3 linked regions of the Homo sapiens genome follow. The protein of the gene in region 3 interacts with the protein of the main gene of each other region in a pairwise test. Each region holds a gene or a part of one and is shown on either strand. Other genes may lie near its edges. The genes, in order: PABIR3, ABCD3 and SUB1.

Region 1 (11,210 bases), on a different chromosome or scaffold from region 3:
TGTTGATGACTCATGTTTGATCTGGAAGCTAGCCAAAGCAGAAAGCCCCCATTCAGCTTAAGGCCTGATGATCATCAGGGGTTGGGATTATGTCCCAGGGACCCTTTGGCCCTCCAGGGCAGTCCCATTTCCAGTGGCCGAGCTTGTGGCAGAGGGGGCAAGCCATGCGGGGGTTTTTCGTCATTCATGCCATAGGGCCAGTTTGCCTTCCAGTGGCCTGGGCTTCTGCACTGATGGCAGTTATCTGGAGGAGTATCCTTAGGGCAGCCTGGAATGGAGGCTGGGGGCTTGCAAAGCAGCCAACAGTTGAGCCTGCTTCTTGTCCCTGCATTTTTCTTTCTCCTTAGCCCTGTCCTTATCCTGCTCTTGGTTATAAAAGACTGAGGAGACTGATTTGAGGTTTTCTGCATAGGGGCCATGCTGTATTACAAAAGAAAATTCGACTTTTTTTTTTTTTTTAATCTGAGGGTTACATTTGTCTCAGCGTTTTGGGATGCAACTCATAGGTGAGTCTGACGGAATAGAGGAGGTTTGTCCCATGGTGGGACTGGAAAACGATGAGCTGCCGGGGACTAACGTCTGCTGCAGACACGAACCACACTCTCTCGCCGCCCCCACCCCCCTGCCCCACCAGGAAGAGGGCTCAACTCACATCTGCTGAGGGATTCCAGTGCACTTTCTTTTCTTTTCTTTTGAGATGGAATCTCGCTTTGTCGCCCAGGCTGGAGTGCAGTGGTGGGATCTCGGCTCACTGCAACCTCCGCCTCCCAGGTTCAAGCGATTCTCCTGTGTCAGCCTCCCAGGTAGCTGGGATTACAGGCATGCACCACTACGTCCAGCTAATTTTTTGTATTTTTAGTAGAGATGGGGTTTCGCCATGTTGGCCAGGCTGGTCTTGAACTCCTGACCTCAGGTGATCCACCCACCTCGGCCTCCCAAAGTGCTGGGATTACAGGCATGAGCCACCGTGCCCGGCCTCAAGTGCACTCTCTAAAGGGGCATCCCACCTATTAGAAAGGACATCTCAGCGCTGGGGCCTTACGCTGGATGGTTAGCCCCGGTACAAGGAAAAAGGGTAAAGGAAGAACTCAGCCTGGTCCCATCCCAGGAGAGAGGACCAGAATGGGGAGACTCACTGCTCTGAGGCTGCTTGCTATCACCTAATTTGGGAACGTCCAGAGCAGGAGGTCTGGCTGTTTTTGCAGGACTATTTAGAGTAAGAAAGAGGGGCTCTGAGCTCCCCAAAACATATGTGCCAATTGCACTACATAGGGATTGCAGACCTTTTCGCCAGAAGAGATAGGAGAGGGCCTTCTTCCCTTCTAGGCAAGGCAGCCAAACCTGTTCACACCCGCTGGCCTTGAGGCCACACCAGGAAATGGCCCTGACCAGTTGCCATCAATTGCCAGAGGGATACTAGAATTTGTCCTCTGGAAGACTGAAAAGTAAAGCAAATTCTGAAGTCTCACAGAATCGTGGGACAGCAGTCTGGTGTCTTTCCACCAGGACCTTCTGGTTCCCTGGGGAGCAGCCCCGGCCAGGGACTTAAAATTATCTCAGGGTTTTGACACTGTCCAACGAGAGGTTGGAATTGGAGGAAAGGGAGAAAGTAGGGGAGAGGCCCATACGAACTACCAAAATGTTGCAGGTGCAGCTGGCCAGTGGCGCAGGTGGTAAAGGAATTGACCAAGACAGTTGTAGGTAAAGAAAGGCAGATTTACTAGAGAAGGTATGGAAGTATGTTGCAAGGAGGCAAAGGGCAGCACTGCAGAGGAGGAGCTGTCTGCAAAGAGGCAGGGGCTGGAGGGAGCTGGAGGGGGCTGCATGTGGAAACAAGTCATGCTGCTGGGGCCACATGTGGAAGGAGGTCTTTGTGCCCTAGGTCTCTCAGAACAATTTTTCATTGTTCTTCCCCACCTGGGGCCCCTTTCTCATTGTTTCTTACTTATCTTATCAGGACTCCACAAACTCTTTTAATCCTCACCACTTGAATGGCCCTGGGGAAGAGAAGGCCATTGCATTGAAATGTAATAGTTCTGAAATTGCTTTCAAAATTCAGCCAGAAATAATAATTTTGCCTGCCTCTTTTCAATTATCCCATACTAAACTTGCCAAGGCCAATTATCATTTTATTCCTCACTGTTTATGCTTTCTGCCTGCAGTATGAGGGATTTGTAAGTACTTTTAGATAGTTTCCTTTAAATTGCCTGTATTTTTCTCCCAGCTAGATTAGAAACAACAACCTCTGTTTTTGAGCAACTTAGGTATCTCTTTTTATCTCAAGGTCTCAGCAACCCTTAAGGCCAGCCCCACCTCCTACTCCCTGCTCAAAAGAAATTATAATACATTCTTTTGTTCACAATAGCTACTAAACAATCATTTGTTGACCACATGCATGCACTGACCTCAGGAGCTTAACAATTTAGGAGAACGCGAGGAGAATAATGCTACTTTGGCCATCATTTCTAGGTTTTATTAACATCATTCTTGCCTGCTAGTTTTTTTTTTTTTTTTAACCTTTCATGTAAATCTTTTGGGAAGGTTTGGGGTGTTTGTGGTTTGTAGATTTGGGTTTGACTTGTATTTGACTTGCTCTTGTGGTAACTAAAGGTTACAACGTAGCTTCAAGGTTGTCATGACAACTGGTAAAATAAAGAGCTGATTATCACATGTTTGTTGGTTCCCTTTTATAGGTGAGGGCCTGGGACAGACGCAGCAGACTGGGATATGCAAAGAGAGGAGTAGCCTAATTGTCAAGTCTAGATCTAACAAAAGCAGTGTCCCAAGATCATGGCATATTTCCCTGGAACTGGAAGGACTGATCAAGAAACACAGCTAGGTTGGTATAATAATGTGTGCGTAGAAATGGGGAGAAGTAAAAACAATTTCTTTAATGTTGTGTTTGCCATTGTAGCATATAGAATTCTTGCTGTTTTTGTATTACTTGTTCCTTTTGATATTCCAATTTGTGTATGTACTATGAGTCCTATTTATATCTTTACAGGTTTGGGGTTCCTGACATGTAGCTGTTCTTTTGTAAAAGAGAGCTCCTTCTCTTTGATAATAGCTGTAAACTTATTACCATCTCATATATTTAGTTATTTCATATTACTCCTTTTCTTAGAAACATAGTCCCTTAGTCACTCTTCCCTTGTCATTTTATTATACCTATTTTCTTAGTGTTGTTGTACTTATTTAAAAATTAGATACTTGTAATGCTTAGGCAGGATGAAATTTTGTCTATTTATTCAAAATATACGTATGAAACCTTACTACCTGCCAAGAATACTAGCAAAAGTTGAAAATTAAAATGAACACAATGGAGGTAAGATTCCCTTGTTCACTGGCCTGCTTCATATTTTTCTGTTATTCAGACAATTTGTTTTTTGACTCTGTTCTGTCTTTAATCACTGCCTTCTGCATTCATCCTGAATTTACTCAGCTTTAACCACCATCTTTTATAAACGTTCAGGTACCCTGGGAATTTTAACAGTGGCTTTTAGGACATCTTGATACTAGCCTGAATTCTCCTGCTATCTAATTATGTGCCATTAATCTCTTTGGAATTTTATCCAACTGTAAAATAGAAATGATTTACCTACTTTACAAGATAACTATGAAAGATAGGCTATTTAAACCTGCATTTATTCATAAAATAATTTCAGAAGTATTTATCAAGTGCTTATGAGTACAGAAATTCAAGGAGATATTCTGAGGCATCTCATTTTTTTTTTTACTTAAACAGAAGGGCAGAGGAATCTTGGCTTTGCCACTTAGTAGTTGCAACTTGAGTAAACCCCTCTGGGCTTTGGTTTCCTCCTGTGAAAAATGGGCATTGTGATGGTGCCTACCTCAAAGAATTATTGTAAACTTTAAATGCAATCACCTATTTAAAGTGATTAGGACAGTACCTGGCACATAGTAAGTGCCCAACAAACGGTAGCTATTACTAATCTGTCTTATATAAGGAATGGAGACTCCACATCATCCTCATGTCTGGGATTTAAGTAATCTAATTCTGCCTAATATACTCAAGTTTGTCTTATTCTATTCCCAGAATGAACAAAGAATACATATTTATTACCTTACATGTCATAACTTGTCACGAACTATCTCAAGACTGTCCCATTATTTTAAGTTCACCACTGGGTAGCTGAGCAGGGTTGATGATTGAACCAATCCAGATAAGTATGTGAAAACATTTTGTAGGCCAGGCGTGGAGGCTCATACCTGTAATCCCAGCACTTTGGGAGGCCGAGGCGGGTGGATCACCTGAGGTCGGGAGTTCGAGACCAGCCTGACCAACATGGAGAAACCCCATCTCTACTAAAAATACAAAATTAGCTGGGAGTGGTGGCACATGCCTGTAATCCCAGCTACTCTGGAGGCTGAGTCAGGAGAATCGCTTGAACCAGGGAGGTGGAGGTTGTGGTGAGCCAAGATTGCGCCATTGCACTCCAGCCTGGGCAACAAGAGCGAAACTCCGTCTCAAAAAAAAAAAAATGTTATCCGTAAAGTGCTATACCAGTGTTATGACTATTTTAATTAATAACTCCCATTTCACTAGGTTTATTTGCCTTGTCTGCCAGTTCTCTATATGGTTACTAAAATGTGTGGTTTTACAAAATTATTAGCATGGAGTTAAGATTTCAGTACTCAGTGTGGCTCATTAAGTGATGGTGAAAATTTCTAAAAGAGTAGTTCTTAAAACGATATGAGCCATGGCAGCATTCTTAGAATGTATGTAGCTTCTAATACTACCTGAAATGAAAACACTGATTTGCATTGATACTAAATTCTGAGATATTTGTTTTTAAAAAAGCCTCACTGCTTTAACTCAAATCTTTGTAAATTAGCTGAGGTCTTTATTTTTTATATGAATAGCTGTGAGGAGCCAGATTATATATAATGTAAAAATACACACTGAGGCAGGCGCGGTGGCTCACGCCTGTAATCCCAGCACTTTGGGAGGACGAGGCGGGCGGATCACCTGAGGTCCAGGAGTTCGAGACCAGCCTGGCCAACATGGTGAAACCCCGTCTCTACTAAAATACAAAAATTAACCAGGCGTGGTGGCGAGCACCTGTAATCCCAGCTACTCGGGAGGCTGAGGCAGGAGAATCGCTTGAACCTGGGAGGTGGAGGTTGCAGTGAGCCGAGATCGCGGCCACTGCACTCCAGCCTGAGCAACAAGAGCGAAATTCCATCTCAAAAAAAAAAAAACAAAAAACTGTACGATTATGGTTTAAAAAAGAAAGAAAGAAACCACACTGAAAACAGTAATTCGTTTGCCAAATGAGCTCAGTTAGGTTAGCACCTTAGCAAGACCCTTTGGGACCAAGTGGCCTCTAAGCACTTAGGTAGCAGTATCTTTTTTTTTTTTTTTTTTTCAGACTTTTGCTTTTCTAAAATTACAAAGGTGTAGTGTGTCTGCTGTTACAGGATGGAAAAATGCATCATAGGAGGTTAGAAGCTTGTTGGCCTCAGTCATAAAGGGATAAGAAAAATGAGAATTAGGCATAGGGCAGGAAGGACCTCACTCCTCCCAACGCTTTCATTTCTAAATAATGCTTAAGGAAACCATGCCAGGGTTAGTAAAAGAGTAGAGGCACAACCACGGTAAGTGGGCATTGGGGAAAGAGGAAGGAGGGCAGGACATGGGGATAAAGCGGTTTCTTAACTGCGCGTGCGCCCCTGGCAAAGCTGACTAAGGCGCCTGAAGTGACGTCATTGCCTGCATCACAACAGGCGTCGTCCGGCTGATAGCTTATCGCAGGCTCTGAGGGGCGGGACCCAACTGATTGTCAAAGGCGGCAGATTGTAGTTTTTGTTTTGGCCGGAAAGGCTTACCATGAGTTGCCAGGGCTGAGAGAGATGGAGAAGGATTCGCGGCGGTGACAGATTAAATTCCCCAGTTACATTATAGACTTGGAGGTGGGGGATCTTCTCATCGTTAGAGGCCCCGATCATGGGAGATAGGCGGTTCGGAGCCAGTTCTGCCTAACTTTGTGTTCACTGATGTTAGGGCTGCTAGGGCTGCAAAGGTGGGCACCCCTACTCGCCTAAGAGCTTTCTCCTCTCTTCTCTTTTTCCCCTTTGCCTCTCTCCTTACATCACCTGCCCACTAAGTAGACTTGTCCTTGTGTGGACGGGAGCCGGAAAGCCTTGAGAACTTATTCCTCGACCCGGACATGGCACAGGAGAAAATGAAACTAGGTTTCAAGTCGCTGCCGAGTTCCACTACCGCAGACGGCAACATTCTGAGAAGAGTCAACAGTGCCCCTTTGATCAATGGACTTGGGTGAGCCGGGTTGAGATACTGGAGGAGGCAAGCGGTGGGGAGGAGGTGTTCGGGAAAGTGATTTCCTATAGAATTCCCGTCCCTTTATTTGTTGAGGTTCTGCAGGTAACTCCCTTGTTCCTGGTGTCCGGAGATCCCACCCTCAACCTTGGGTGGGGGTAGTGGGACGGGCTGACCTGAGGGGGAGCGCGCACCCACCCTGAGGTTGACAAACATCTGAATCTGAACATCCTCCCCTGATAGTCCACTCGGACCCGAAAGTAGCAGCCAGTTGGTGTGGAGCACGGCTTTTTTCTAACTTCAACCCATTTCTTACCCACTCCTTTGAAGAAACTTAGTATCCTCCCCCACTCACCTCCAGATCTTCTGCCATGACTGTAATATTTGTCATTTCAGCTGCTTTGTCACCTCTGACCTTCACCTCCAGCCGCTTGAATGGAAATGGTTGTCAAGCAAATAAGCTTTGGACTTTTTTACATTTTTTTTTTTGTCTTTTTTTGAGACGGAGTCTTGCTCTGTCGCCCAGGCTGGAGTGCATTGGCACGATCTCAGCTTACTGTAACCTCCGCCTCCTGGCTTCAAGCAATTCTCATGCCTCAGCCTCCCTAGTAGCTAGGATTACAGGCGCCCACCACCACACCTGGTAATTTTTTGTATTTTTATTTTTTATTTATTTGTTTATTTATTTTTGAGACGGAGTCTCACTCTGTCGCCCAGGCTGGAGTGCAGTGGCGTGATCTCGGCTCACTGCAAGCTCCACCTCCCGGGTTCACGCCATTCTCCTGACTCAGCCTCCCAAGTAGCTGGGACTACAGGCGCCCACCAACACTCCCGGCTAATTTTTTGTATTTTTAGTAGAGACAGGGTTTCACCGTGTTAGTCAGGATGGTCTTGATCTCCTGACCTCGTGATCCGCCCGCCTCGGCCTCCCAAAGTGCTGGGATTACAGGCGTAAGCCACCGTGCCCGGCCTAATTTTTTGTATTTTTAGTAGAGACAGGGTTTCACCATGTTGGCCAGGCTGGTCTCGAACTCCTGGCCTCAGGGGATCCGCCTGCCTCAGCCTCCCAAAGTGCTGGTATTACAGACGTGAGCCACTGCTCCTGGCCTACACCTATTTTTTATTGGAGCAGAAAGTTTTGGTACCACAGAAGCTTGATCTCCTAAATTACACATTCTCACTGGGTGATACTTCCCCCAAGGGGAAGAGAAAATAGTTCTTGGGGGAGTGTGAAAAATTTTTACTCTTTTTATGTATAAAGCGCAGATATACATACAGTATGTACACAGATATATACTATATATGTGTTATTAAAATTTCACGAAGGGGGAGCAATTAGGGGAAAAATGTCTAAAAAGGCTTTTTAGAGGGTCAATAATGAAAAAAGGATTTAGAAACACTACACTAAATGATGGTTAACTGTATTTCTGAAGATCTGGGATTACTAAATCTTGTTTCCTTTTTTTTTTTTTTTTAAGACGGAGTCTCACTGTGTCGCCCAGGCTGGAGTGCAGTGGCATGATCTCGGCTCACTGCAACCTCTGCCTCCCGGGTTCAAGCGATTCTCCTGCCTCAGACTCCCGAGTAGCTGGGACTTCAGGCACCCGCCACCACGCCCACCTAATTTTTTGTATTTTTAGTAGAGACGGGGTTTCACCGTGTTAGCCAGGATGGTCTTGATCTCCTGACCTTGTGATCCGCCCACCTTGGCCTCCCAAAGTGTTGGGATTACAGGCGTGAGCCACTGCGCCTGGCCTAAATCTTACTTCTTAAACTAGACTTTTAAAATGAGATGTTGGATTTCACATTTCAGTATTATAAGGTTTTCTAGATACCGTAAAAATGTCTGAAAAATGCATTCACTACATATGTTACTAACTTTGCTCTTCACCTTTTGTTGCATCATACTAATTGATAGTTGTAATTCACAGTACCATAGACTATCAGGAAGGGATTCAGAGACCAGCTTTACCCTCCTTGTTTAACATATGAGGAAACTGAGGCCCATAAATCTCCAAAATGACGTTTAGTGGCAGAGCCAGTACTAGGAAGCTCTGTTTCCTGACTCCTAAACTACTGTTCTGGCCACTACTAACCAATACCTAAGCTGATTAACTCTAAATGAATGCAGCTTTTGGGTCATTTGAGGTAGGAGAGAATATATTGTTCACAAAATGAAAAGCAAACTAAGATTGACCAAAAAAAAATACATTACCTTTTTAAAATAGGCAGGTAGAAAAACATAGAAGGGGGACTCTGCATGTTGTGCTGAGAACAAGAACATTTTATTCACTCAGGATTTTGCTCTAATTCTGTTGTGGGAAAAAGGAATTATGGGACCCACTCTACTAGTAGAAGAGAGCAGTAGGGAGAATGTTGGATTTATTGAAGACAATATAAAAAGAAGAAATAGGTTGCAAATAGACGATGGAAGATGTGTACTGGAAGGAACCTGTGGATCCTCTTTAATGTATTAAATACACCAGAGAAGGAGTGGACCCTTCCCTAATCCTTAAAGCCCTGGAAACAGAGAGATCTCAGTTATCCCTTCATACCTTGCTTTGTTCTGCAAAGGATTTTTTTGTTTTGTTTGTTTGTTTTTTGCTTATATTAGAGCATAGCTACAGTGTTACATTCCATAGCTTAAGATCCTGATGCATGAAGTAAAATTTGTACAGAAAGATAAGGGTCACTAGCATATTTCTGTAGTAGGAGTTTAAAGATACAGAAACCACAAAGTGGACGGAGTCCAGGGACTCTAGTCTGTCAGAAAGAAGTAACATAGGAATGATGTGTGACATCCCTGAGATTAGGGGACTTGCCCAGATGATCTGAGGGCATATTTTGTGCTGTTGTAGAAAATGTAGGGCATAGTCAGAGAAGTTATTCTGAAGCAAGAAAAATTTAGAGTAGGATTACACTGAGCCTTAGTTGAATTCATTTTCACCTCAGTTCTCATTTGCATATGTATACTGCTCACTTTTCTCCCTTTTTTTTTCCTTCCTTGGCCCTCTAATACTTGAGTACTTCCTCTTTCTAAACTATACCTGGCCAGTAAAGCATTCTTTTCAGAAAGGTGAAAGTCACTAGCATATTTCTTTAGTAGGAATTAAAGATATAGAAACCACAAAGTGGACAGAGTTCAGAGACTCCAGTCCCTCAGAAAGAAGTAACATAGGAATGATGTGTGACATGCCTGAGGTCAGGGAACTTGCCCAAATGATCTGAGGGGATGTTTTGTGCTGTTGTAGAAAATATTTAGCTTGCTAAACATTGTTGCACCTCTTTCAAGTAATTTTCGAACTTTGCTTGATGTTTCTTCTATATAAAGACCCTCTTGCACCAGCATTTGCAGAATTAAATTCCTTAGGTTTGTTTCTTTCATATCAACTCTTTAATACAGTATTACTGTTTTAAAGAAGTATCTGCACTGTTTTATGTATATCTTGAACTAATAAAAATTCCAACGTCAAAAGTTTTGAACCTCTTGGTTCTTTATACTCTTTATCTCTGTAATTGGCTGACTTTATTACTGGTGTCAATAACTATACTTAAAGCTAGGAGTTTTTTCTTCTCTTTCTCTGACCCTTATTCAAAGACTCAGAGATTAGGTTCTTGTATTCCTGCCAGTGCCTCCCTACCTTAAAAACCTCTACCTTGACCCTGCATTTAAACTGTTACTGCCTCAATTCTTTTTTTTTTTTTTCCTGAGATGGAGTCTTGAGGCTGGAGTGCAGTGGTTCAATCTCGGCTCACTGCAACCTCTGCCTCCTGGGCTCAAGCGATTCTCCTGCCTCAGCCTCCGAGTAGCTGGGACTACAGGCATGCACCACCACGCCAGGCTAATTTTTGTATTTTTAGTAGAGACGGGTTTCACTATGTTGGCCAGGCTAATTTTTGTATTTTTAGTAGAGATGGGTTTCACTATGTTGGCCAGGCTAGTCTTGAACCCTTGACCTTGTGATCCACCCACCTTGGCCTCCCAAAGTGCTGGGATTACAGGCGTGAGCCACCACTCCTGACCCTCAATTCTATTTGAAAGGCAAATTACTGCCCCAGAGCCAAATGCAGCCCACCACCTGGATTTGCAAATAAAATTTTATTGGAATGGAACCATCCCCATTTGTTTAGTTGTTATCTATGGCTACTTTCCCACTGCAGTGGCAGAACTGAGGAGTTGCAACAGATACTGTATGGCCCACAAATCCTAAAATATTTACTCTCTGGCCCTTCGCAGAAAAAGTTTGCCCATCTTCTGGTTTATTGAACTTTTACGAACGTGGAAGAATAGCAGCCATGAGAAATGATTGCTTTGGGAATATAAGTGACATAAATCTATTATAGTTTAGACAGAGCTGTTTATTGATCATTTGATGTGGAACATTGAACATCCATCCAGTTATACTACTTCTGCTTTTTCCGAGTTAAAAGTAGCACTTAGTTCAGATATCAGCTAGGGTTTTATAAATTCATGTTGAATGATGCATACCAGTTGAAGTATATATTGCCTGAATTCTTTCTTTCAGTTATAGTCTTACTAAAATTGGCAAACAAATTTAGGGTAGACTATATCATTGTCAGCCCTAAGTATTAAGCCCCCTACACATGTACACAAAAAAGAATGGAAAGAAATAGCCCATTAGTGTCCCTCCAATTTTCTTATGAGTGACTGCCAGAACATATTCCTATTCTCACAAAGAAAATGACTGGGAAAGTAAGTAGAATTAGATACATCCATATACCTTCCATTCACAAAATATTAAGTTACTGCCTGTTATATGCAAATTATGATGTTGCAAAGATGTATCTCAGGGCTCAATAAGCTTTAATAGGGAATATAAATACTAGAAGGACTTAAATATATGGTAGAGTAAGATAAGTGCGTAGGGAGCTTAAGATAAGTGCGTAG
Region 2 (10,549 bases), on a different chromosome or scaffold from region 3:
CAGGTCAGGTTATATATGCTCAGGTACACAACTATTACTTCTGCAAAAAGAATGTTTCTATTCATGTTTGTACTAGGCATCTCCAAATGCCTGTCAATTACGCTTAAAAGTTCTTCAACTATCCTATGTCATTTATCCTCTCTATAAACACTGTCTAACCCATGACAGAGCCGAACTAGGGAATTAAAGATGACTCAGTTCATGCCCTCAAGAAACTCAGGATCTGATGTAGGCAAAAGCCAAGAAAACAAACTAGTACAATACAGAATGGTAAGTGCTAGAGTAGGGGATACCTAGAGCAGTAGTCTCCAACCTTTTTGGCACCAGGGACCAGTTTTGCGGAACACGATTTTTCCACAAATTGGGGTTGAGTTGGGGGATGGTTTCAGGATGAAACTGTTTTGCCTCACATCATCAGGCATTAGATTCTCATAAGAAGTGTGCAACCTAGATCCCTCACATGTGCAGTTTACAACAGGTTCACGCTCCTATGAGAATCTAATGCCCCTGCTGATCTGACAGGAGGCGGAGCTCAAGTGGTAATGCTCGCTTGCACAGGCTGTGCAGCTGGGTCCTAACAGGCCACCAACCTGTACCAGTCCACAGCCCGGGGGTTGGGGACCCCTGGCCTACAGTATCATAAAAGCAGAGGACACTTACATCAGTTTGGAAATCAGAAAAAGACAGAAAACACCTAAGACAAAGTGTTGACTGAGTCTTGAAGAAAAAGAAGTATCAGCTGGGCAAGTTGGCTCATGCCTGTAATCCCAGCACTTATGGTTGGATGAGTGGGAAAAGTAGGGAAGGACCACACCATGAATACAGAAAGTTTGTATTTTAGAGTAGATTAATGATTTTAATGAAGGAATATTATGATCATATCTGAGCTTCTTAAAAAGAGCTCTGGTGGCAGTGGAAGATGGATTGAAAGGGCACCACAAAGTTTCTTTCTAACATAAATGCAACAAAAATCTGATAAAGGATGCTGTAACAGTCACTTTATTCCAGTTATCCACTCCTACCCCCTTTCTAGGCTTAACACACATCCTTCATGAAGCCTTCCCCAACCCTTCCCAAACACATTAATCTTGTCTTTCTCAAAACTTCTAAGACATGTCTATCTGTACATTTCATTCTGCTATCAGTGTTTAAGTTTCTTTTCCCTAACAAGAAGGTAAGCTCCCTGAGAAAACAAGTCATATATTTTTGTAATACACACACACACACACACACACACACACATCTTATAGCTCCCAGTACAGTAATATAACATTCTGAAATAGACACTTCCTTTAAATAGCCCTCTTTATCCATGAGTAAAAAGATTCTTCTTTTCCCCATAAATAATAAAATAAAAGGTAAGATTAGGCAAACTAAGGTGAAAAAGTTAGCTTAGCAGTGCTGGAATCAGGAGTGAATACAAGCTGATCAGGAATGAATACAAAGGAACTTTCTGGTGGGATAGAAATGTTCTAATTTGTCATAGGGATGTGTTACATAGTGTATCCATTTGTTTAAAAAATGTACAACTAATATTTGTACATTTCAATGTATATAAATTTTACCTAAAAAACCTATAAAAATAAGGGGTGACAGGCAGGTTGAAATAGATGAAACAAGAATATAGAATGTTGTTGGTACTCCTTGGGTAAAGTGCATTGGGCAATCCTTGTATTATTCTATTTATTTTTTATATGTGTGAAATTTTCCACAATAAAAGGTCAGAAACACACACACATATATATGAGATTTAACTGAGTGAAAAAAATTACATTAACAAAAATTAAAAGTAACCCAGAACATTTAATTACTCATTCTCCCAATGTTTGGAATAATGTTACACTGTAACTTTTAAAGTGATTTTACTAGCTCTATTACCTATCCAATTCTAAGGGAATATATATTCTAAAACCAACCTACTATTAACAACATAGACAAAAGAAGGCCAAGTAGCCACAGTTTCCTTAATTAAGCACCAGATATTAAAATTAATCAGTTCTGTTACCAAAGATATTCAAAAGCCCACTCAAATATAAAGTTAGAATCTTCTAATCTTCAAACTGTGATACCAAAGGTGGTGACTAAAAGATATTTGTAAGCTTCTGGAAGTACAATATCTACAAAAATACACTCAATACCATTTTTAATGGTTTCAAAATAGTTCAATCATTTCACCTCAACAATTTAAACTTCATGATTATCTGCTCAGAATCTGCAATCTCCTCCAACAAAATACTGTGTAAAATAGAGATTTTCCCCACTCATCCCAATGCAAAAGACTAATAATAATCTTTTGTTCAGTACATCTCCTGCTAAAGAATTTAATCCCCACAAAAGCTCACAAAGTTTCTCAAAAAAAAATTTTTTTAGGCATTTTACAATGGCAAATGAGGAGCTAAAATTATTTAATAAGACAAATTCTATTACATTATTTTACTTCTATCGCTACTATTTCCCAATAGATTCTGTTTAAAATTTCCCTTAGCAATAATCTATGGTCTTACAAACTGGTTTAGTAGTTAGGTGGACTGTGACTGGATGGGGGCATGAGGAGAATTTCTGGGGTGCTGATAATGTTCTGTTTCTTGATCTGGGTGCTGATTACACGAGTGTGTTCTACTTGTAAAAATTCTTCAAGCTCTATGTGTACTATATGTATGTGGCATGTATGTGATACTATATCACATATACATATAATCATAAAAGTAATCCAGAACTTGTAGGGCTGTCCTCGAGTCCCCTCCTCCATATTAAAACACCTGTTCTATGCCCTGAAACACTTCTTTGCAAAAACAGAATTCAAGTTAAAGGACCTAACATCTTCTTTCTACTGGCATGTTCCCAGGTAACAGGTAACTTCTATTTGCAACTGGGAGTTCATACAAACCAACAGAAAAACTTGCTTTTTATTTTCCCAAATTAATCCTTTTAAAAGCAAACTGAATAGAAGAAAAATGAGTAAGCGCTGTTATTGCCCAGACTATGCTGCAAATCATTTTCAACTCTGTTAAATGGATTTAGGAAGGAAAAGAAAGATCATCACTTCAGACTCTAGTAAGATAAAAACAGAAGGCGGCTAGAAAGAACTTAATGGAAAGGGTACTATAAACTAGAAGTCTATTTGTGTTTTAGCCCAAATTTTACTACTAATTAGATATTGTAGGCAAATCAAACACGGGAGGCAACAGTACCTGCTCAGAGGAATGAATGAAATAAAATTCATGAAAGTAGTATGTCAAGATTTAATACGAAATATTCAATGACTGGCAAGAACGCTTGGGAAGTAGCCTTTTCTCTTTCACTTGTCCAGCAAATAAAAATTGCATGTATGTGACATACATACCTGTATGTCGCAACCGTAATTCAGCTCTCTCTTTTTTACTTTTTCTGAACTGATAACCTCCCAAAGTTAAATCTAAGCACTGAAATTCTCCCGCGGTGGAAGCAGTGGCGTGTCATTAAAAAGGAGCTTGATCCTCACCTAAACCACACTCTCATCTTTCACCTACAGAGCCCAGGAAGGAAAACATTTCCCTCTAAGTCCGACAGAACCGATCCAGCCTTTCCGGATGAAATGCCACCGACCAAATGTTCACCGACCAAAGGGTTCACCGACTCCAAGGGCTCACCACTTTAGACGGCAATCCTGCCAAGTGGACCGGGAATAGTTTCATAGAAGCCACCCTCGCGACTTTCAATAGCAGTTAGTCGGGAATCGAGCCAAACCTCGTCCAAGTGACTTAGACACCAGCCTCCAGCCTGGCGAATCCAATCCCCATCCTCAATCACACATCCACGTCCCCAAAACAAATCCTTCACGGTCTGAAGATGAGATGGCAAAACCAGAACACACCCAGAAAGTTGACACAGAAGGGGGTGATGTAGGGAAGGGGGTGGGGGACACACCGCATCCCCCTCCCACCCCCAACTGGAGGCCGCTGCCTGAGTGCTGGCTGGGCGCCGGTTCGCCCGCGGGCACAGAAGAATTCGCACTCCCGGGGTGGAGCGAGGTCGCCGGACAGGCCAGCTGGGACCGACGCCGTCGTGGCGGGGACTCGCGGACACCCTGACATTGAAGTCCCACGGCAGTCGCGGTCGGCCCTCTCTCCGCCCGACCCCGTCGGGCAAAGAGACCTGTCGGCCGGGTGGGGAGAGAGAGCGCGCGGGGAGCGCCCGCTCCAGCCCGGGAAAGCTGCACGGCTACGGGCCTTCTTACCCGTGCAGGCCGAGGGCGCGGCGCCGCTTGTGGAGCAGGCAGAGCAGCAGGAACGCGGCACCAGCCAGCGAGGAGTTTCGCGCCGTCAAGTACTTGCTGAAGGCCGCCATGGCACTGCCGGTACCAGCGAGCCGGCGAGGGGACGCGGCGGCGGCGGCGGCGGCGGCTACCTTACTGCACGCAGCGCGGGGGAGACTGGGAGGAGAGCAGAGGGCGGGGCCGGCCGCGCAGGACCGCCCCCTGGCTCGCGCCGCCGCGCCGCCCGCGCTCTGGAGCCCACTTTGTACTTTGGCCCGGCGGGAGCGCGCTCGGCAGCCTCCGTGGGCGGAACAGTTCCCGGGACGCGCTCTGCGCACGCGCGGACTCCTTCAGGGTCTCCGGAAACGCGGCGCGGAGGAGCTGTTGCTACTCAGCCCTGCGAGGCGTCAGTGCTGCCCCTGCCTCACCCCTACCCTCCCACTCTTCGCGCGCACACCCCGGCTTTCACAATAACTGGATGAGCGGGCCTGGCCTGCAGCGACGACCTAGTGGGCCCTGCCTCTCCACTCCCGCGGTGATGTACCGTTACCACCCTCTTAAAGGAGCCCAGGAAGGAGGCGGACGGCCCCGTCACAGAGCGTGTAGGGAAAACACAGCACAGTGATTATCAGGACGAAACCAAACAATCGGAACTCCGCAGAGGTGTAGGGAGATGTGAGGAGAATGACACAGATCAAAGAGCTTTTTCCAAGCCAGTATTTTCCAAACCGCGGGTTATAATCTCTAGCGCATTGTGAAATTGGTTTGGTAGATCGGGATCATCACCCTCCGTTTTTAATAAAATTGAGAATAGAACAAAATAGAAAAGTTTCACAGTACATCACGTAGTAAAGGAGTTGTTTAGAGAAATTTCGATTTCAGTGTTTTGCACGTATGTATCGCCAGCGGCGATGTAAAATGTATGCAGATCTGGTCAGAAAAAAGTTTGAGAAACACTGTTCTTTGCAAAGGGACATTCAGAAGTAACAATCGTGCGTTGTATTAATGCTGGCCTCACTCCCAGAATCAGAAGGGCTTTGCAGATTACAACATTCTTCTCCTGTCTGACCCTATGTTGCAGGAATTGTTATCGCCAGCATTGAGCCTAGCATATATACAGTAACAGTGAATCGCTGTTTTCAGCTGAGGAAACTGGAGAAAAGCAAGTGTGTCAGAAAATAAGCTCATAAAACCTCGCATAATGCACATACATATTAAAGTAGCCTACAAAGTAGTGGTGCTGTGCCCTAGGTGTTTTCTCAATATAAATGAGCTGTTGCCTAATACAGGTTATGAGGATCACAAAGACGAGGTACAATAATGGCATGCGTATAGAGGTGCTCAACAGTGAATTCTAAATTATGCAGAACTGAAGCTCCTACTAATTCACTATTTGTCATGTGGACATTTTCATTACCTGGAGGGACAAAAGGTTTTGGCCCTCTGAAAGTTAACTGAAAACCGCTGACATAAGGCAGATTAATAGAAGAAAAAATTAATAGGAGAAAAGGCATACAAATTTAATGTGTATACATGGGAGCGTTCAGAATGGAGACCCAAAGATACTTGGAAAATTGTCCATTTTTGTGTTTAGGTTCAACAAAGTATGGACAGCTATGTAGAAATGTGATTGGACAAAAATGGTATAATCTAATGCTAACAGACTGAGTGGGGACACCCAGCAAGGCCTGTCTAGATTCTTCTTGGCCTTCTGAGCACCATTCCTTCCTTCTGGGTATAGGGCAGGAATGGAATGGAGCTCTTAACAGCCTACAGTCAAACAAGGCAGGTCAGATAATTTCTTTATGGCCAGATTTTACAGAAAAAGGGGGAGGGAAAACTAGCAAAATATGTTTAGGCTTTTATGGCTGGCTTTAGGGGATAGAGGTTCTGGTTTCTACATCTTGTCTTGAGGAATAGGGATCCTAATATCTATGGCTAGCCTAGGGAAATACGGGACTGAGAGACAGGAGGGCCAGAGTAGGGCAGAGAACTTTTGCTACTGAGACCTTCATTTTGGAGTATTGTGTTGTGAGCCCCAACGACCTCACATAATTTACGTAATTAAGTATGCCTGGCACAGATAACACAAGGATGAACAGATCATGGAGATCATATTCTCCAGAGGCTGTTAGAGAAGAAAAACGTGTAAAAAAAATCAAGTATAAATGTGGTAAGTACTATATTAGAGATATGAACAAGGTGCTATGAGAACACAAACATGAAAATATTTAGTTTTGTCTAATGCTTTCAATAAAGGCTTAAGGCTTGACAAAGGTGATTCTGTAGCTAAATTCTAAAGGACCGCAGGAGTCACTCAGGAGGACAAAACAGGAAATTACTAATTCAGTAATAAAGTGCTAGAAAAGAGTTGGGAACCTTGTGAGAAAGTAACGGTATCATCTTAGAGTTTGTAACAGTGAAGGAAGTACAAGCAAGATTAGTCAAAAACAGTCTAGAAAATAGATTTCAAAACAGTCAGAGGAAAGATAGAAATGATCTATTGACAAAACATTCTAAAAGTTACCCTTGTTCAAGAAGCATGGGAGATTCTAAAAAATTACACTAGTTATTCGAGCTCAAATAATTTTAGCTATTGATAAAGCCCATCTGACAAAAATCACCAGGACCAAATCTGGAACCCATTAAGTTTATTAATTTGCTACAGCAAAAGATACTATACAGCAGAGGAATTGTGGCCATGTCTCAAAAAAAAGGAAGAAATAAGGAGTCATTATAGTATTTAGAGAAAGAGAGGAGTTTAGGTAAAATCTAAATAAAGCAGTGCTTGATAGGCCTAAAGCAAATCAGATCTGTATGTAATATCAAACCTGGGCTGAGAAGCAGATTCAAGATTCTAGTTCTTAGAAACATACATTTAAGATTAATGTAGAATATTGTGTCTGAAAATCCCTTATCTGAACTTCTGCACTGGAAATGGAGACTGCTTCTGTAACTCTAAGTGACTCAAAGAGTTCAAATCTGCCAGGCAAGAAAGGGATGTTCTGTTCTCACTGATAGAATCTCAGAACAACAAACTTTCTAACAGTCTAGGATTTTAGAGAACAAAATTCCTCAGCACTATGTCCTTTGATAATTAACAATGCAATTTTGCAAGTTCACACTTCATAATATTAAATAATAAAGAAAAACAGAAAATGTGATTTTATGGGGGAGATCTCCAAGAGCTCTGATTTTTAAAGAATTTGAGCTACTGAGAACAGGTAGGCAGGGCATAGGAAGTTAGTGAATCTAGAAAGCCTCTGGAAGAAATGTTGTGTTAGCCAGACTCCAAGATTGTCCCTGGTGATCATGGTGTCCTAATATTTATGCCCTCATGGAATTTCCCTCACATCAGAGCTGAGTTTTGTGACCAAAAGAGTATAATGAAGGTGATGCTATGTGACTTCAAAGGCCAGATTATAAAAGGCACTGTGGCTTCTGCCTTGGTGTCTTGGATTGCTTGCTCTTGGGGAAGCCAGCTGCCACAGAGAGCACTCAAAGTGCCCTGGAGAGGAACTGAGGCCTCCCACCAGGAGCCAGACCAGCTTGCTAGCCATGGGAGTGGGCCATCTTGGAAGCAGATCCTCCATCCTCAGTCAAGCCTTCAGGTGACTGCAACCTCATGAGTAATCTCAAACCAGACAGCTCAGCCAAGATGCTGCTAAATTCCTGACTCGTAGAAACTGTGGAAGGTAATGTGTTTATTGTATTAAGTCACTAAATTTGGGGGTAATTTATTATGCAGACACTGTGACCTTGAAAAACAGATGGAAAAAAGAGGATTCCGAAGAAGATACAACAGGAGCAAAGATGCAGAGACCGAAGCAGATTGAGGAAGGTGATTAAGTCTGATGTGGATGGAGGCTGAGGGAGGCATGTGAAATGAGAGAAAAGTTTGCAATGTTTAACTGAAGTCAATTTGTGGAGGGTCTGAAACACCAATCCAACCGGGTAGGATTTTTATTCTGCATGTAGAAAGGTGTATTGCAGGTCTGGGGAAAGAGTAGTGACCTCAGGATTTATTTAAGAAAGATCATGCTAGTGGCAGTGTGTAGAGTGGGCTGAAGGAGGAACCATCAAGCAGAGGGACCAGTTTGAACACATGAAATAGTCTAGGTAAAAGGTAGTGACCATGTGAGTCAGGGCAGCACAGATCAAATAGGAAGAAAATGACTTTGTGGATTCACATAAAATGGAAATAGGTGAAATAATTAATTCATAGGAAGAAAATTTTTACATTGATTCTGATATTGCCTTGCTGAGTGTCTAAGAGGGTGATACTATTTACCCAAGGTCGGAGACACAGAAGTGGTACATGCTCATCAGGAAAGGTAATGAGATGCAAACAAATTCCTTACTAGTTTCTCATCACCAAGATAAACTGCAATAGCCTTAGCATCTCACACAAACCCAGTGATGATATAAGCTCTGCCTACCTCTCTAACTCCTATCTTGGCACTTCTCCCCTCCTACAGATATATTCTACCCCTACCCCAGGAGATAGATGCCTGCTATTCACTTCTGTAGTCTTCCCTTGAATATCCTATTCCTTCTACCTGAATCCCTTCCTACCCTAACATCCTCACGTTCAACTCAGTTTATCCTTTAAAACGAAGCGTTCATGGTCTCCTACTCTGAACAGTCATCTGTGACCAGTCCCCCCTAACCCCTTCACCCCATTGCCAAGTTAATTATTATCTTCTTTGTACTACTACTGTTTCATATATAATTCTATTAATATGTAGTAGGGTGTCTGGGGAGGCAGATCTTAAATTTTTTTTAGAGACCTGCCAATCATTTCTCTGGAAAGGTAAACACCTCAAGTCACTGAGAACAAATCATCTTTGCTCAGAAAAGAGTCACTTGAAAAGCCCCTCTTACCAATTAGAAATGGAAGGAGAATAGGTACCCAACTGCACCAAGGAAAGGACATCCTGACAAGGCTGTTTCTTCAAATAGCCCTAGTTAGCCCAAGCTGGCATTGGGGAAGTTTGCATAGGAGAGCCTCCTGGGAGGAAAGAGATTGAGATCTCAACCTCTTCCTTTTTGAGGTTCACCACTACTAGACTTTCTGATGGACTCAGATAGTCCTGTCTCACTAGATCAGGGTCCCAAAGAGGAATGTACTCCCTTTTCCTCCCAACTGTGTCCGCATTGCATCCTGTTCAGGCTTCTGCCAGAGCTCCCGTAGTGTTTATTTATTTAAATTGCAGTAACTATCATGAGGGAAAGAGCCAAATCTTATTTTTCTTTAATCCTACATAATCTGAAAAAAAAATTGAATACATACCTCATACTCCCAATAAAATAAAAAGGATAAATTCAAAATTGCTCAAAGAATGAATTTTTTAAAAGGAAAAAAAAGATACCATAAAAATATTAGAAGAAAAGATGGCAGAATTTTTTATGATACATTTATCTTATAATCTTGGCATGGGGAAGACCTTTCTAGGTATTAAAATCCAGAAGCCATAGAAAAAATAAATAAATAAATTTCACAACTTAAACATTTTTTTTGTGATTAAAAACAACCTGTAAACAGGGTAGAAAGAAAACTGTAAGGGAAAACTGCACTTATTTTTACAGATAAGTGGTTAATTTTTCTAAAAGTACCTTAAAATTAGTAGGAAAAAGGCCAAAAGCTAAATTTAAAAAATGAGCAAATAATGATATAGCTCACACAATAAAAAAATTAAAATGGCTCTTAAACATATGAAAGGATTACTCTTATCATAGAGATACAAAATAAAACTACACTAAAAATCAATTTTTATCTGCCAGATTGGCAAAGACCCCAAAGTGTGGTAACACTGTAATTTTTGATTACTAGTTCTGAGAGGCAGGTAAATAAATATGAACTCCAGAAGAACAACTGGGCAATAGCTTTAAAATAGTTACAAATGCATGTACCTTTTGACCCAGAATTCCACTCCAGGGAATTGACTCTGCAGATGTATTCTCACATAAGTAAAATATCATAGGTATAATGCATCTTTGTAAGAGCAAAGAATTGGGAACTTTTCTAAATGTCCATCAGTGGAGGTCTGGATAAACAAATATAATGGAATATTATACACTCATTAAAAGAATGAAGCAATTTTATATGAACTGATATGATTTTCAAATATAATATTAAGCAGAAAAAAGCCAGGTGCGGAAGAATATGCAAAGTTTATCACCATTTGTAAACGGAGCTAGTGGGGGAAAGTAATATATACTTATTTGCTTATAGATGAATAAAATATCTTTGGAAAAATACTCATGACATTGATAATACTACTTGACTGCAAGAAGGGTAACTTAGTAGGGGTA
Region 3 (10,488 bases):
AATTCTATGACCCTAGGATGCAAGGCAGTGTTTCTGCAACTTTAGGGTTCCTAATGATGCTCAACAGAAGACTTGTTAAGTCTGATTTAGGGCCTATGAGTATGAATGTGCAAAAAGCATCCTAGGCACTTCTAGTCAAGTGGTCCAGAGACCAACCGTACCTCCAGAAATACCCATTCACATTCTTATTTTTTATTTTTTATTTATTTATTTTTTTAAAGAGACAGGTTCTTGCTATGTTAGCCTGGTTGGTCTTGAACTCTTGGCCTCAAGCAATCCTGCCACCTCGGCCTCCCAAAGAAGTAGGATAACAGGCATGAGCCACCGCGCCCAGCTAGATCCTCATTTTAAGATGTTAATACACCTTTTACTATCCTTCAGAATGGGATATGGACAATATTGTTGAGTATCACCAAAATGACTTGGTGCAGCAGTAGTCACCTTTTTGTCAACCTCACTGTCAGAATCACTGCCAGAAGAGCTTGAAGAAACAAGTTCCTTTGATTTAGGCATCCTGAAAGAAAAATACATTACAAAAATAATTAATAAGGTACTCTACTACTTTCAACTTAGCTCTCCCCCAATCAAAGAAAAAAATCAAGGACAAGTTCCACGGTTCATTCTACCATTTTTGTGGTACTGAGTTGTTACACTGAGCACAAGTTTTAATCTATACCCTTTTAAGTTGCAAATAACACGCAGGGTGCAATGTGCTGAACCCAGTAAGAACAATGAACTAAATGTCATACACTCCTACACCTCTAACCTTTCTCCAGGCCAATGGATCTTTCTATACTTCGTTTTAATGGCATTACACACTATGGGTAGGGTAAACTGCAAGAAGGCAGCAGACAACAATTACTATTAAAACCAGAAGAAATGTAATTCTACTATTACTGCTTTAGACTTCTCATCAACGAGATTGGAACTAACGTAAAATTATTCACTATGGGGAACTGACCCCAACATTTACACAACAGGGAACTAGCTGTACTATGCAAATGTGACATCTAATTAATTTTTACATAATATTTTATTCATATTTTGACTTTTTGGCCGTATCACCAAAATAACGACAGGTACTAATTCAAGAGTACACAAAATTATACGCAATTCAGGCCGGGAACGATGGTTCACGCCTGTAATCCCAAAACTTTAGGAGGCCAAAGCAGGCGGATCACCTGAGGTCAGGAGTTCGAGACCAGCCTGGCCAACATGGTGAAACCCTATCTCCACTAAAAATACAAAAATTAACAGGGCACGGTGGCACACCTGTAGTCCCAGCAATTCGGGAGACTGAGGCAGGAGAATCGCTTCAACACCGGAGGCAGAGGTTGCAGTGACACAAGGTCACATCATTGCACTCCGGCCTGGGCAACAAAGCAAGACTCCATCTCAAAAAAAAAAAAAAATCTTACACAATTCACAGCAATTCATTACATTTTACACAGATTTTTCTACTCTGGAACATAATTAAAATTTGAAGAACCTATTTATGGGAGGTGCAAAACCTATTTATGGGAGGTGCAAAACCTTCCCGCAAATTCCTACCATGCTGGTAACTTCCCAGGTCCCCCCAGAGACATAGATAACTTAGTGCCTTGCTTACAAGTGGGTGTTTACTGAGTGCCTGAGTGCAAGTTTGCAGAAAGCAAACTATCAGTAAGCCTAAGCCCCAAATTTCAAGGAATTCCAAGATACGTGGATACCTCTATTCAAGGCACTTATAACACCAGGTCATAAAACGCTGATTATCAAAATATCTTTTGCTCTCCCCATCTCAGAAGAGATTAGGTCCTATTAACCCATTTATGCCAGAGGTTGCAATTTTTTGAATTTATGCAAGCAGACCTTGGCGATGATCTTGAGCAGTAGCACATAAATAACTCCCACATGCTTAGCGTTCCAATAATGGAACACTAGGCATAAATTAGCTAATTTCTGTATGCGTTAAAGGGCCTAATAAACACATCACACACTGTATTTGTTTAATACAAGAAAAAAAGACTTAAAATTCCTCCTTAAAAAAAAATCATAAATAATCTAGCTCTCTAGATGAAACTTGCATTAGCACTGACATTGCATATGTTCCAAAATAGGAGGTCAAGGAAAAAGAAGTGGGCCACCCCAATCCTAGCCATTAAATTCAAAAAGCTCAATCTGATTTTAACTGGTAATGTCTTCAAGGGTAAATTCAGAAGGGAAAAGCAATGTTCATGACCACGTTTTATCCGTTTTTCCTGTTTCTGCTCCATTTTGCAACCTCATCTCTAAAATCAATTTAGTTAAGTTTTTTATGCTAATTAATACGACAAAAAGATATTTTTTAAAAAGGTAATTAAATTGAACATAATTTTTCACTTTGAAACTGTCGATCATAACTACCGTCTGTTATCAAAAACTGCCTGGGGGCCTAAGAATTTTTCAAAGAACCACCTGGTACTCAACCCAAAGAAGTCCACTGGAGAAGAAAGGTAACGGTAACTAAAACCAGCCTCTAAACTTTTAACAAATATATATTTACCTTAATGAGCCTGTTCCAATGTGGGGGTGGGGGGAGAAGCAGCTTGTAATTCAAGTAACTGATACTGAAACCACTATTGTAGAATTTATACAAAACGCAACTTTAAAAAGAGAAACGAAATCTTCAGCCTTTGCTGATTGAGGGAAAGATCAGAAAAAAACGAGGTGAAAATGAACCAGGACTGAAGGGCACACGACTTCGGTATAACAGGAAGGTGACAAGCACAAGACCAGGGAAGGGGTCGCGCGGCCCCAGCAAGCCGCTAGAACCCCGTGGCTAGCAGCCGCTCGGGCGAGGGGAGACAGGTTGGTCGGAGGGGGCGTGGGAGGCGGCGAAGTGCGGAGAAGACGGCGTGGGAAGGGGCGGGATTTGCACCAAGCGCCATTTTCTTCTCTCGAAGCGTTCCCTCCCCCTGCACATCAGCCGTTCTTCCCCCGGCCCCCTCCCGCCCGCATCCGCTCTCCCAGTCTCCAGAGCGCCCCGCTCAGGGCGAGGGGCGGGGGAAGAGTAGGTAACCGCACGCGCCCCACCTAGGCAGGCCGCCGCCGCATTGTCCCGGGGACGCCGCGACTCTCTCCCCGCGACTCCTCACTCCCCGGCCGCCCTCAATCTACCGCCCCGGGCCGCAGCGCCCGCCGCCTCGACTCGGCTCCCCGGGGACAGGAGTCTACCGCGGAAGGGCCCACAGCGCGTCAGGCGTGGAGTCAGAAACGGAGAAGGGGGCCGGGGACGCCGAGGGGAAGGGGGAGGTAAGGCAGAGCCGCCATTTCCCGCGGCCATTGCCGGCGAGAGGAGTGGAGGGCCGAAGGCAGCTCACGGCCCGGCTGGGAGGGTGGGGGCCCCGAGGAGTAGGGGTAGGGGGTCCCGCGCACTCACGCTTCGCTCGGCTCTAGCAGTCGAACACCCTCTTGGTCGTTCGCTCGCGACTGACAGAGAACCGGAAGTGACGGCAGCCAGGAGACGCCGGCCCCGCCGCGCTGGGGCTGCGGTCACGTGATGGGGCGTGGCCTCCCCACAGAAACCAACACTTAGACCCTTTCCAGGGCCTTAAAGGGACCGCGTCTCTTCCTAAATGGGTGACGCGAAAGTCAGATGTTGGAAGATTACATCTGACCCTTGAGAGAATGAAAGAGCTAATATCCTTCCTGTAGGAGATAGCTTAAAAAAAAATTAAAAAAAAGGAAAACGCCAATAAAACATGAGTGACAAGCGCCAAGCTTTGCGTTTGTTCAATAAATGTTTACTCTAATGAAGCGAAGGGGTCATAATGAAAAAGATCAATACTCTGGCCCATTTTCCCAGAAATGGTCTTCCTACCCCACTTCACCCACCTCAATACATGCCTCTGCCTCCTAAAATCCAAAGGAAGGAAGCTAAAGTCACAGCGTTTAATTCCAGAAAGTGCAAGAAATCTTTGGAGTACTCCTTATTCCTGTATTGAAGTCCTGGAGATGTAAGGGAGTTCACAGAAGGCAAGAGGAATCCATATACAAGCAGGAATATAGCTAAAAGATTATTTGAATATGTATTTGAATGAATACTTCCTACAGCTAAGAATCAATATAAAGGCATATCTATTAACAAAGATTTATCAAGCACCCACTACGTGTCAGACGCTGCAGGAGGCAATTTACATTACTCATCCTAACAAGCATGTTCCAAAGCAGAAATGACTGTTCTCTCCATTTTATAGACGAGGAAACCAAAGTTAACGCCCTATGGAGAGGATATTTCCTGTTACAGCTGAAGCGTGAATTGTCCTTATGTTCTCTCCCTCCAGACCCTATTTTCCTGCCTCAGGTAGAGGAATGGTATGGGATTTTACAAAGTAGAGGATGGAATCCTGTCGAAGCTCAGAATTGCACATCGGAGATGCCACAGAGGCTAAGGAAGGGCAGTGGGTTGCAGAAAGGGAGGAGTGTTTGGATCTACATATGGAGCAGTTAGACCTGTGGTTCCCACCCATCCCACCCTTATAGGAGAAGAGAGTTATATATTCCCTGCAAACATTAAAGCTGGGAGCGGAATGTGTAATGGGGTTGAGACGCAAAGAACACAGCGGATGGAATCAAAGTCTGAACACTAAACGTGAAAGCATCCCCCACACGTCCCTTTCTAGAATTACCTGACTTTTAAAGGATTAAATGCTGACAAAAATACAAACTAATCCCTTAGTTTGTTGTGAAACTCTCCATCATAATGAAATAAAAGAAGCCATGAAAATAAACACTGACATCAGGCGCGGTGGCTCACCCCTGTAATCCGAGCACTTTGGGAGGCCGAGGCGGGTGGATCGCCTGAGGTCAGGAGTTCGAGACCAGCCTGACAAATATGGTGAAACCCCGTCTCTACTAAAAACACAAAAATTAGGCGGGCGTGGTGGCGTGTGCCCAGCTACTCAGGAGGGTAAGACAGGAGAATCATATGAACCTGGGAAGTGGAGGTTGCAGTGAGCTGAAATTGTACTACTGCACTCCAGCCTGGATGACAGAGTGAAACTCCGTCTCAAAAAAAAAAAGAAAAGAAACACTGACATTATGCATTGTCATGGGACACTGCGCAGCTCCACACCTAGCTAAAGAAATGCTTAATATTCAAGGTAAACCACGTACACTTAAACTAATATGGTATCCCCTCCATCTGCAACCCTTCCTGCTTTAACAAGTTTTCATTCAGTTTCTGTGTCACTGAGGGAACCTGGGCAGTGTGCCTGCTGTAGGTTTGGGTTTCGGTTCTCTAAGCGTCGGAGGTGGAGAGCTGTTAAGGAGGTATGCATTTTTAGAAGTAGGGAGACCTGAAACTTTGCATGCAAATTTGTTGGCTCAATTTTCCTGGGTGTGGTACTTTGTAAAACTAATCGAAAATCCTTGATCCTAAGCGTTGCCCATTTTTAAAAGGTAAACATAACTCAAGAAAATAAACAAAAATAATTTTTTACATAGATGAAAGAGGAAGGAAACTTTTTTATTTTAAACAAAATAGGGGCCAGGCGTGGTGGCTTATGCCTGTAATCCCAGCATTTTGGGAGGCTGAGGCGGGTGGATCACCTGAGGTTAGGGGTTTGAGACCAGCCTGCAAACCTGATGAAACCCCGTCTCTACTAAAAATACAAAAAATTAGCCGGGCGTGGTAGCGGGCACCTGTAATGTCAGCTACTCGGGAGACTGAGGCAAGGAGAATCGCTTGAACCCAGGAGGCAGAGGTTGCAGTGAGCTGAGGCTGCACTGAGCCTAGATCACACCCATTGCACTCCAGCCTAGGCAACAAGAGCGAAACTCCGTCTCAAAAAAAAAAAAAAAAAGACAGCAGTTGCTTTCAAATAATAGAATGGGAAGGAGGTGTAATTCACATGCATTTGTACATTGTGGGGTGGGGAATAGCTCCTTTTATAGGCAAATTCCTAGAGGGCATCTTTAAAAGTGAAAGAACTCCCACTTTCCACTCCAAGCCTTGGTCTGGAAGAAGAGGGTGGCACAAAAAGGAATGTGCTGAATTTGGAGAATCTGTAGGTGTCCCAGAAAGGGAGGTAGACTGGGAAGTAGGGCTGAGAAGGGAAATAGCTCACAAACTATGAAAGGGACAGAGCTTGAGGAGGAGACTGCCAGGAAGAAGTTCCTGGAGGCCTGGAGTATGGCACGGGACTGTTAATGCGGTTCCCTCCAAGGCCTTATGCTGTCGACACCCTCCGTTACTCACTTCTTTCAAAGCTTCCGAAAAAGGCTTATTCAAGTATCAGGATATTATTTTGAAATCTTACCCAATGTGGCTTTTGTTACTAGCACTTCCTGCTTTCTGACCTTCACTCTTTCCCCATCCCCCGTTTTCTCAGCTACAGCATTTGACTAGAAGAAGGATGTTAGACCAGAACACACAGACCAGATTCTTGGCTTTTGACTTTTTTAAACTATTAGGATTCCAGGCATAAATTACAGATTTAAGGTAATGTGCTATTAAAGTTTTTTTCTGGCTGGGTGCTGTGGATCCTGCCTGTAATCCCAGCAATTTGGGAGGCCGAGGTGGGTGGATCACTGGAGCCCAGGAGTTGCAGACCAGCCTGGACAACATAGTGAGACCCTGTCTCTACAAAAAATACAAAAAAATGGGCCAGGCACAGCGGCTCACGCCTGTAATCCCAGCACTTTGGGAGGTCCAGGTGGGTGGATCACGAGGTCAGGAGATCGAGACCATCCTGGCCAACATGGTGAAACCCCGTCTCTACTAAAAATACAAAAATTAGCTGGGCGTGATGGTGCGTGCCTGTAGTCCCAGCTACTCAGGAGGCTGAGGCAGGAGAATCGCTTGAACCCAGGAGGCAGAGGTTGCAGTGAGTCAAGATCATGCCACCGCACTCCAGCCTGGTGACAGAGACAGACTCCATCTCAAAAAAAAAAAAAGAAAAAGAAAAAGAAAAAGAAAAAAATCAGCTGGGTGTAGTGGTAAGTTCCTGTAGTCTCAGCTACTCAGGAGGCTGAGGCAGGAGGATTGCTTGAGCCTGAGAGGTCGAGGCTGCAGTGAGCCATGAGTGCGCCACTGCATTCATTCCAGCCTGGGTGACAGCCTGGGTGTTTTTGAGACCCTGTCTCAAAAACAAACAAACAAAAATAGTTCCTTTTAGCCCACCCCACTCGCCTGTAGAGATTATTGCAACTGTGAAAGGGAGGAGTCAGAAGAGAAAGGAGATGAGGCCCCTCTTCAGTGTCTAAGGAGTAGAGAAGTAGTTCTGCTGTCTGTCCCCACACCAGCCCTGGGGAAGGAAGGAAGCATCAAATTCCCAGAGGGCTTAGGGATCTGAGAGAGCAAAGCAAACTGGTGCCTTGCTTTCCAGGCAGCCGAGCTCTCCGAGCTCCTCTGCAACCCAAGCGCCCCTCCCTCCACCACAGAGTTGGGGTAGAGATATCTGTGTGGTGTGTCAGGATGGCCGACCTCAGGCTTCCTCACCGAGTTCAGAGATGCCCCAGGGTACTGCAGCATTCAGGGGAATGTCTTTCTCTTTGGCCAAGAGTGGCACAGATGTGTCAGTGACAGCCAGCAGACCTGGGGAGGACTTGCAGTGAGGAAGAGGAAATCTCACCACCCTCAACTTGCATAGAGTGCTGTAACAAAGGACATCTCAACAAATACCAGTGTGAAGAAGTGAGAAGGATCAAGAATCAGACAAGATGAACTGTTAAGCAAAGGCCAATGATACGGTCTCCATCTGTGTCCCTGCCCAAATCTCATGTTGAGTTGTAATCCCCAATGTTGGAGGAGGGGGCTGGTGGGAAGTGATTGGATCCTGGGGGCAGATCTCCCTCTTGCTGTTCTCGTAATAGTGAGTGAATTCTCACGAGATCTGGTTGTTTAGAAGTGTGTAGCACCGGCCGGGCACAGTGGCTCATGCCTGTAATCCCAACACTTTGGGAGGCTAAGGAGGGTGGATCACGAGGTCAGGAGATCGAGACCATTCTTGCCAACATGGTGAAACCCTGTCTCTACTAAAACTACAAAAATTAGCTGGGAATGGTGGCACATGCCTGTAATCCCAGCTACTTGGGAGGCTGAGGCAGGAGAATCACTTGAACCAGGGAGTCGGAGGTTGCAGTGAGCCGAGATCATGCCACTGCACTCCAGCCTGGCGACAGAGCGAGACTCCATCTAAAAAACAAAACAAACGAAAAAAAAAAACAGTGTGTAGCTCCTCCCCCTTGTCTCTCTTCCTCCTGCTCCAGCAACGTAGGATGTGCCTGCTTCCCCTTCTCCTTCAACCATGATTGTAAGTTTCCTGAGGCCTCTCCAGCCATGCTTCCTGCACAGCCTGTGGAACCATGAACTAATTAAACCTCTTTTCTTTATAAGTTGCCCAGTCTCAGGTAAATCTTTATAGCAATGCGAGAACAGACTAATGCGGCTGTCATGGACAGATGGGGAAAATGGGCCAGACTCTACCACTACCCTTAGTGCTCTGACACCATGTAATCCTACCCCACCTCTGTCCAGAATTTAGGAGAGAAAGGGGGAAAGGGAGAAATTATGAGTTTGACCTGAAATTGGCCACAATTAAGCTTTTACCACTAGGTGAAATGGTGATCATTAAACACAATCATAAGAAAATGAAGAAAGTCACATTTCCTGAGAGCCTGAGTTTGTAGCACAAGAGACATACCAGTAATATACAAAGAAGAGGAAACAAGAAAGAAAGGGAGAGGAACAGGCTTATGTGCCAGGGATGTGGTGGGCACCTAGGGAGGTCAGCCGCCTCTGGTTTAACCTCCAGGCTAAAGCAGGAAAGCAGATCACAGCGTGAATGACTAGGAGAACATAACTCCTTCCAGGTTATTTTGGGAAAACTTAAGAATTCTGGAGGTCCCACGGCACATGGAATGGTAGCACCAACCATTCAATTTGGATATTAAAAGATATGGTGGCTCTGGATGTCTAGAGGTTTTAGGAACACCTAGGATGGGGCCATGTGGATCATACATGCAAAAGAGAAAACAAATAAAACAAAAACCTGGGCATCCTCCAGTTTAGTGAGTCTGAAGAACTGGGAAGGGAGACAGTACAAGGTAAGAGGGTTGTTATGGATTGAATGCTTGTGTTTTCCCCCAGATTCATATGTTGAACCCTTAATCCCAGTGGGATGGTATTATAGGTGGGGACTTTGGGGCATACTTAGTCATAAGGGTGGAACCCTCATAAATAGATTCATGCTGTTATGAGAAGAGACAAGAGAGAGCTTAATTATTCTGTCTCTGTTCTCTGCCATGTAAAGATACAACAAGAAGGCAGTCATCTGCAAACCAGAAAGTGGGCCCTCACCAGATATGCAGGCACCTTGATCTTGGACTTCTCAGCCTCCACAATTGAATAAAATAAGTGTTGTTTAAGCCACCCAGTCTATGTTATTTCTATTACAGCAGACTAAGACGGGGCAATATACACTCTCCCCAAGAGGAGACACAGGGAGCACCTACTCTTTGTAGGGTGTGAGTTATATCCATCAGATGCAGTGATGTGAGAAAAAGTTAAGGCATAAAAAGCCTTGTGGGTGGGGCTCGGTGGCTCACACCTGTAATCCCAGCACTTTGGGAGGCTGAGGCAGGTGGATCACTTGAGGCCAGGAGTTCAAGACCAGCCTGGCCAACACGGCAAAACCCCATCTCTACTAAAAAATACAAAAATTAGCTGGGTGTGGTGGCACATGCCTGTAATCCCAGCTATCTGGGAGGCTGAGGCAGGAGAATCCCCTGAACCTCAGAGGGTGAAGTTGCTGTGAGCTGAGAGAGGGTGAAGTTGCTGTGAGCTGAGATCACACCACTGCACTCCAGCCTGGCTGACAGAGCAAGACTCTGTCTTAAAAAAAAAAAAATCCTTGCTTCACAGGCTTTGAAGAAGCTGGGAAAAATAATTTTCCTTCTTCCTTTCCTGCCCTGCTAAACCCTGGAGTGTTAGGCCTAGAGACAGAGAGGAAGAAACCAGCAACAGTGTTCACCTGGTGTTATGTAGGCTTGGCTTCAATGAGACATAATCCCAGATCAGAAAGCCAACAATGGCAGTCAAAAACAAACAGAGTGAAATTCCTCTGTCAGCAGTTATAGTGGTAATGCTGGTCATCTGGAGACCAAAGTGGGCAATTTAATATGGATGAGAGGAGAAAAGGAAGGACTGAACTTGCTCCCCATAGCAGCGCTATGACCCATGCGCTAAAATTTTCTTCCACCAAACAAGTTGCTACAGACCCTTGTATTTTATCTACCGTCAAAAATGAACTTTCATAGTACAACATTAAAAAAGCTAAGAATATGTAATTCCAAAAGTTTAATACTCCTTCTCACTCAAGTAATTATAAATAAATATGAATTACATGAATTACGTGTAAAGTCATATGCAATGAGTAACAGCAATATATTTAAGGAAGTTATTTAAATACAAACTGCTAAGCATTTCTCCCCTAGGGTGACTTTTCTGAACTTGGTACTGGAGCT

Evidence for each region.
Region 1: the proteins of SUB1 (region 3) and PABIR3 interact in binary tests that used the Homo sapiens proteins (3 or more experiments, as listed by UniProt).
Region 2: the proteins of SUB1 (region 3) and ABCD3 interact in binary tests that used the Homo sapiens proteins (3 or more experiments, as listed by UniProt).

Annotation. Positions count from the first base shown.
Region 1 is NC_000023.11:134,801,408-134,812,617, forward strand, and holds the start of PABIR3 (PABIR family member 1), read left to right. Parts: upstream 1-5,829; 5' UTR 5,830-5,934; exon of another isoform or gene 5,935-6,132; coding exon of another isoform or gene 6,133-6,191; coding exon 6,192-6,301; intron 6,302-7,779; coding exon of another isoform or gene 7,780-7,966; exon of another isoform or gene 7,967-9,776; intron 9,777-11,210.
Region 2 is NC_000001.11:94,412,256-94,422,804, reverse strand, and holds the start of ABCD3 (ATP-binding cassette sub-family D member 3), read right to left. Parts: upstream 4,417-10,549; 5' UTR 4,327-4,416; coding exon 4,217-4,326; intron 1-4,216. UniProt on the Homo sapiens protein: Broad substrate specificity ATP-dependent transporter of the ATP-binding cassette (ABC) family that catalyzes the transport of long-chain fatty acids (LCFA)-CoA, dicarboxylic acids-CoA, long-branched-chain fatty acids-CoA and bile acids from the cytosol to the peroxisome lumen for beta-oxydation.
Region 3 is NC_000005.10:32,578,538-32,589,025, reverse strand, and holds the start of SUB1 (activated RNA polymerase II transcriptional coactivator p15), read right to left. Parts: upstream 3,470-10,488; 5' UTR 3,401-3,469; exon of another isoform or gene 3,055-3,400; intron 2,658-3,054; exon of another isoform or gene 2,525-2,657; intron 515-2,524; 5' UTR 514-514; coding exon 442-513; intron 1-441.